Linked DNA regions of Homo sapiens: region 1 is linked to region 2. The links come from fine-mapping of genetic effects on gene expression. A gene starts in region 2. The other region holds a variant in brackets. All regions are shown on one strand. Distances are from middle to middle.

The links. PIP is the estimated chance that this variant, and not a neighbour inherited with it, causes the effect.
Region 1: its variant is fine-mapped to the expression of ABLIM3 in putamen (GTEx, PIP 0.90).

What each region holds. Positions count from the first base shown.
Region 1 is chr5:149,220,330-149,223,239 of GRCh38, reverse strand. All of the region lies in intron 8 of ABLIM3 (actin binding LIM protein family member 3), which reads right to left. Among named protein-coding and RNA genes, the nearest start is that of AFAP1L1, 50 kb to the left of the region's middle. The variant T/C (reference allele first, on the strand shown) is at 1,560.
Region 2 is chr5:149,140,136-149,143,045 of GRCh38, reverse strand. ABLIM3 (actin binding LIM protein family member 3) reads right to left here and starts at 1,553. Exons shown (of 24, transcript NM_014945.5): 1 at 1,392-1,553; 2 at 938-1,037. The coding sequence starts at 950. LOC124901102 (a long non-coding RNA gene) reads right to left here and starts at 930. Exons shown (of 2, transcript XR_007058988.1): 1 at 257-930. RefSeq lists enhancers at 131-630, 631-1,132 and a silencer at 1,438-1,687.

The sequences.
Region 1 (2,910 bases), 80 kb before region 2:
TGAGAGGAGAAGCTGGAAACAAACTTTAGAAATACAAACCTTAAGCTACTACACTGTAATACTTTCTATATGATTCAAGATGCTTGGTAACCCTTAAAATCTAAATAAAAAAAAAAATGGCAGCTCGCCAAAAATTAAAATATACTCTATTTAAAATGAAATATGCTTAGTAGAGTCAGACTTCAGGAAGTATCAATTTAGTACAGTAACAGAATATGTCTGAAAAATCTAAAATTAGGTAGTAGGATTGGGGAAACATAAGATTTAAAGTTTTTAAGCATAACTCCTACAACCTAAGCTGTCAGTAGAGAGATCCAATTTAAAGTAATAATGCTAAACTACGAAATTATAGCAACCAATACTACAGTAGTGCCTTTTAGAGGGTGGTTTCATGAAATGCGTAGATGATGACTGAGGGCTGGCGTTCCACAACCCATAACAATGGGAGGCCCTCACTTGAACATCTCTCAGCTTAGTGCACCTTTTCTGAGTTACAACCCAGCCATGCCAGAAATACACAGCTCCTGAAACCAGGACCTTGTATCCTCTGAGCTAAAAAAAAAAAAAAAAAAAAAAAAGTAATCTGAAATAGATTCAGTTACACAAGAGAAGGGTTTGGGGTTTGGTGTAATTATCAAAACAAGCTTTTGAGACTCCGTTTCGGATTTGTGTTAACACAGAACCAAGTCTCTTCACTTTATTTTGGCCCATGGACACCTCTGAAAATCTGATGAAAGCTATGGACCCTCTGCCTAAAGAAACACACCTAGCATGCAAAATTTAGCAAGCAATTTCAGAAGACTCATAGAGTTCAAAAGGCTGACCATGAACCAGTTTAAGAATTCTGGTAATATAGATGTAAGAAAATTGCCTCCAAGAACCCTAGCAAGACAGGCCCACTTTGGCTAAGTGGCGTATGCTCTTGAAACTTTCATTCTCATCCTCTAAAATGAGGACATTAATAGTTTTTAGCTGACAGGGTTGTCGTGAGGATAAAATGGGATACTGTGTTTCAAACTCTTAGTACAGTACTTGGCACATAGTAAATGCTCAAAGTATACCAACAAATAATAATTATATTATTAATAATAATAATAAAATGATGGCATTTTATTATTATTAATATTTTTATTATTATCATTATTATTGGTGAGACCTATAATTTGTTATAATACTTTTCTTTAGCAGAGTGAGGTTTGTCCAGTATTTTATAAATGATTTCCTGCCTTGTGGGTTTTAGTTAAATATACAAATGATAACAGCGAATTGTTTTAAAATGTGCAGCTGAACTTACGTAATTCCAGGGTTATTGTCTCAGGTCTTAGAACAGGAGGGTATTTGGTGTAGACAGAAGGGTAGAAGAAGAGTCTATTTTCTCCCTTTTCCTGGGTACAGGCACATTTAGAACAAGAGCAAAATTTGTCTCATGAACCACATTTGGGATTTTAAAAAAACTCTCACTGATCTAGTAACTGCAACCTTTGGGATTTCAGTATAAGTTTTGCCCTGAACCTGCAGCATTTTGGCCATTATTTTGCTGCACAAAATGAGTGACCTAA[T/C]TTCCTGGTGAAGCCCAAATGAAGGGTTTGGATAACAAACAGATTAGATATTTGGCATCTTTACAAACACAGTTAAAAGATTGAATACACAACAGAACTTAAAACAAATAAAACTTGCTCTTGTCTCCTGGGGCCCCAGAAGTTCTCCTCCAGACAGACGTCAGACTTCTCCCAATTAGAGCCCATCAGAAAGCCATCACATAGCAATTAAAACACAAACAAACTCACCCAAAGAATCTCCCAAGGACCATTTGCCAGTACCATGCTGTGTCCAGCTCCAGAACTGACAAGGCTGGGTTTGTAAGCTTTGCAGGCATCCCAACACTCTCTCTCTCTTATATAAGTTGCTTTATGGAGTCCCCAGTGCCTTCACATTCACTCTCTCCTCTAATGTTCATGAGGACCTTGTGGCATATGGTTGCTCTCTGTGTGCCAGGTAAGTGGGCCTGCCTCAGTTTCTCCACCTCGTTCTGCTTCCACCCACCCAGGGAGGGCCTTTGCACTCACTGTTCTCACTGCCTCCTCAATCTTCCTGCCCTTTTCAGCCTCCCACCTCCTACTCATTTTCAAGGTCTTGGCTTGAAATATCCCTTTTTAGGGGCACCTTCCCTGGCTTCCCAGACTAGAGCAGGGGCTTTATAACACATGCCCATTGTTCAAAACTTTCTCTGTGCAGCACTTGTCACAGCTTGTCATTGAATGTTTACACTTCTATTTGGCACTGTTGGTTTCTCTTTCCAGAGAGTGAACTCCACCAGGACAGCAAGCATGCTTGCCTCACTCATCTCTGAATGCCCAACATGTAGCAGAGAGCCTGGCACATAGCGTGGCCCCCAGTTTGAGTGGATCAATGAAAGACGATGATGTTATCCTCATTTTACAGGTGAAGCAAGAGATCCAGAGAAGGAAGCCACTTCTCAAGGTCACAGCCTATTAGTGGAATTGCTGACGCTTGAACCCGGGAGTCCTGGCTCTCAGCCACTTCTTTACACTCCTGAGCTACCCAGGAGCAGGGTTTTCTTGCCAATTCTGGGGGATATCATATTGAATCCTGGTGTCCCCACTTGGTGAGGGTGTCCAAGGCCCAGATCTCAGTGGTAGCAGAACCCCCACAAGACACTCACAGCCCAAGTGAGCGTGACTCTAGCACTGCTTGGCCTGGTCCCCCTCATTCCAGGATCACTTAGCATCCTTTCAGGCAGGTCCTTGAATGCCCTGCAATTACTCCCACTCTCCCAGGAGCCAGGAGAGGGATGGGGATAATTAATGAGAAGGTGACAGGCTCATCTTCATTACTAAGAATATCTCCCACCCTTGGAGGCATTTCCACTGTAGGTTTAATGGTGCATTC
Region 2 (2,910 bases):
CAGATGAGCAGTCTGAGATGCAGAGAGGGGACTGATAACAAAGTCATAGACCCAGGGAAGTGACTGTTCATAGGGGTTCTCTGGTTCAACAGCCCTATGCGATGCTGGAATAACCTAGACAGGCCAAGCTGACAAGAGGGCAGGAGAGTGAGTCTGGAACCAAGATATGCCCTCCCAGGTCACAGCGCTACATTGAAGAGAAACAGACTGTGCCTTCTTGAATTTCGGACTGCATTCTCAGTAGCTGAGGCCCTACCTGGCAGCAAAATATCTGGTCCTGGCTCTGCAAGCAGTTGTTGCCTCTGGCATGTTAGAGCCCTTGGCCAAAGGGCTGTTCCTGTCTTCTTGTTCTCAAGGATAGCTAACCAGCCTGCAGGTACATAGAGAAACCAGCCCTGGGCCCACCGGGCTGCAGGCACTCGGGAGCTGGATCTTTCACAATCTCCAGACCCAAAGGTGGCTTGGCGATTATTTGTTTATCAAACTGCGGCTTCCCAGCCCACTGCCTGCCCACACCCACCTACCCTCCCGCCTGCCCACAGGCCAGCCTCCCTGCTCTTCCCACCTCTGGGACAGGCAGGGCCCTCCATGGTTTTCCAGATGTGTGCAGGGAGTTCTCCTCAGAGCCCCCACAGTCAGACAATGGCCACACACTGCTTCCTAGGCCTTCCCAGGCAGTGCTAGAAGGAGACGAGCAGCCTTCCCAGGAGAGGCGGCCGGCGCCGCTGATAAAATATTGGCAAAATTATCACGAAAAGCCAGAGTCATGAAGCTATCCCTCTGCCAAGGAGCACGGAAAGCACCAAAAAAGAGCCTGGGGGTCATGTGTCCAGAGATGCCAGGCTTCCTTCCTCTTTCCAGGCAGCCCGAGCGCAGGCTCCCTCACCTCCCGCCCCCACCCCTGTTCCCATGGCAAAGGAGAGGAGGATCCACTTACTGCTAGTGTTCATGGTGATGTCTTTGCACTGGGTCTTTCATTCAATACGGAGGCCCCGGCTGCTTTTTAAATCTTCCGTTCTTCGAACCTCACTCATCACCTGGGGGGTGAAAAGGCAGTCCAGTGCCAGCTCTGTATCCTCAGGTGCTCTCTCTCCCTCTGCTGTCCCCTCTCTGTCTGGGCTGTAGCCCCTGGCCTTGAAGGCGCGTGGACTAATAGGCGCAGGTGAGAGCAAGGAGAAGGAGGCGGCAGGACACCGGCGCCCCGGTCCTCCTGCTCCTCAGATTGGAATCCCGGGCAGAAGTGGGGTTGGCAGCGCCTGCTCGCGCGCACCCCGGACTATTCCTGCCCAGCGGCTCCGGAGCCCAAAGGGGGTGTGGACCACAGGGAGGCAGGGCGGGGGCAGCGCGTCCCCGCCCGGCTTCAAGGAGCAGCGACCCGCCCCGGAACCCACCTCTCGGCCAGTGTCGGGAGCCAGAGGCCCCTGCCCCGGCCCCTGCGACTGATTTCATGAATCCTGGTCCTCGTCTGGGGTCTCGAATTCCAGGGCTAGCAATGCGAAATAGGGGAGCTCGACATCCATGATGCGGGCTCGCGGGTTGGCAGCGCAGGGGGCGCGGCCGCTCGCTGCTGCCACCTGCTGGACGCACCGGCGCGTGTCCGAGGCCCCGCCCCGCCGGGCTTCTGCCTGGGCCCTAGGGTGTGATGGGAGATGGACGAGGCCTTGTGAGATGGACGAGGCCTTGTGTCCTGGGACCAACGAGGGAGTGCTTGAGCGCTTGTTTTCCCTCCCTCGATCCTGGGGTTCTAAGGGCTCGACAATGATAGGAAAAGAAACATCATTAGGAGGGGCCGTGAAGGAAAACCTGGCTTTGCAGGAAGACAGTTTCCACCCGGCTCTGCTCTGGCAAGCTTGGCGCAGTCTAGGCTCAAGCCGGTCACTACCGTCTCTGCCTCATCTTTCTCAACTATGAATATGGCGTCTGGACAAGTGGATAACACGTAAGGGGCTCTTCCAGCCTCCCAGCGTTTATGTCCCCTCTTCCCTCACAGATTCCCTTTATCCTCTATCGCTGATTCATCATTAGAATTGTTTATTACCTCTTTTCCCCACGAGAATGTTAGCTCCGTGAAAGAATGGGTCTGTCCGTAGGGTTCACCTACAGGCCCCCAATACCTAGCACAGGGCCCGGCATATAGTGGCTACCAATAAATATTTGTTGACAGAGCAACCCAGACATTTTCTGGGTTTAATATTACACAGCCCTAAGAGTAGACTGCCTAGGCGCCCCACCCTGAAACACTTCCCCGTCTGAGGAGAACAGCAGGTATGTGGCCTCACAGGTCCACCCTAGTTTTCATATGGTCAACTAACTCTTCCCCCAAGTTGTTGTTGTTTTTTTTTTTTTTTTTGTAATTATGTCTTATACGTGTGTATTGTAGAAGTTTATATTCCAAAGTGTTTTAGTCACAATTGATTCAGTGGGGTAGGGCTCTTTACATTCCTGTGACTACTTACTCTGTCACTTTCTGAACCTAATTCATGATCATAGAAGCATGACTTTTGAGTGCTGAAAAACAAGACTGTGAGGGCACATGATCCTTGTCTATAGCATGACTTCAATTAGAGCATGTGCAGACTCAAAAGGCTGTGAACACTCACAGCCCCAGCTTAGACAAGGAAACAGGGTGTCAGAGAGGCTGGGCAACGTGCCCTAAGACACACAGCATCTTGTGGCAGAATCGGACCAGATCTTCTCACTTCTAGCTTGATCCTGTGTGAGAGTGGCTCAGTGCACTAAAGTCTGGGATATCAGTGTGAGATTAGATAGCTGCCCTATTAAAATTGGGGAAAGACAAATACGATGTTTTTATACAATGCTTTTAGATAAATACAACGTTTCTACCTTACACAGGGAGGAAAAAAAGGATATGGCTCATGACCCCGAGAGGTGATCAGGATTAAAGAATCT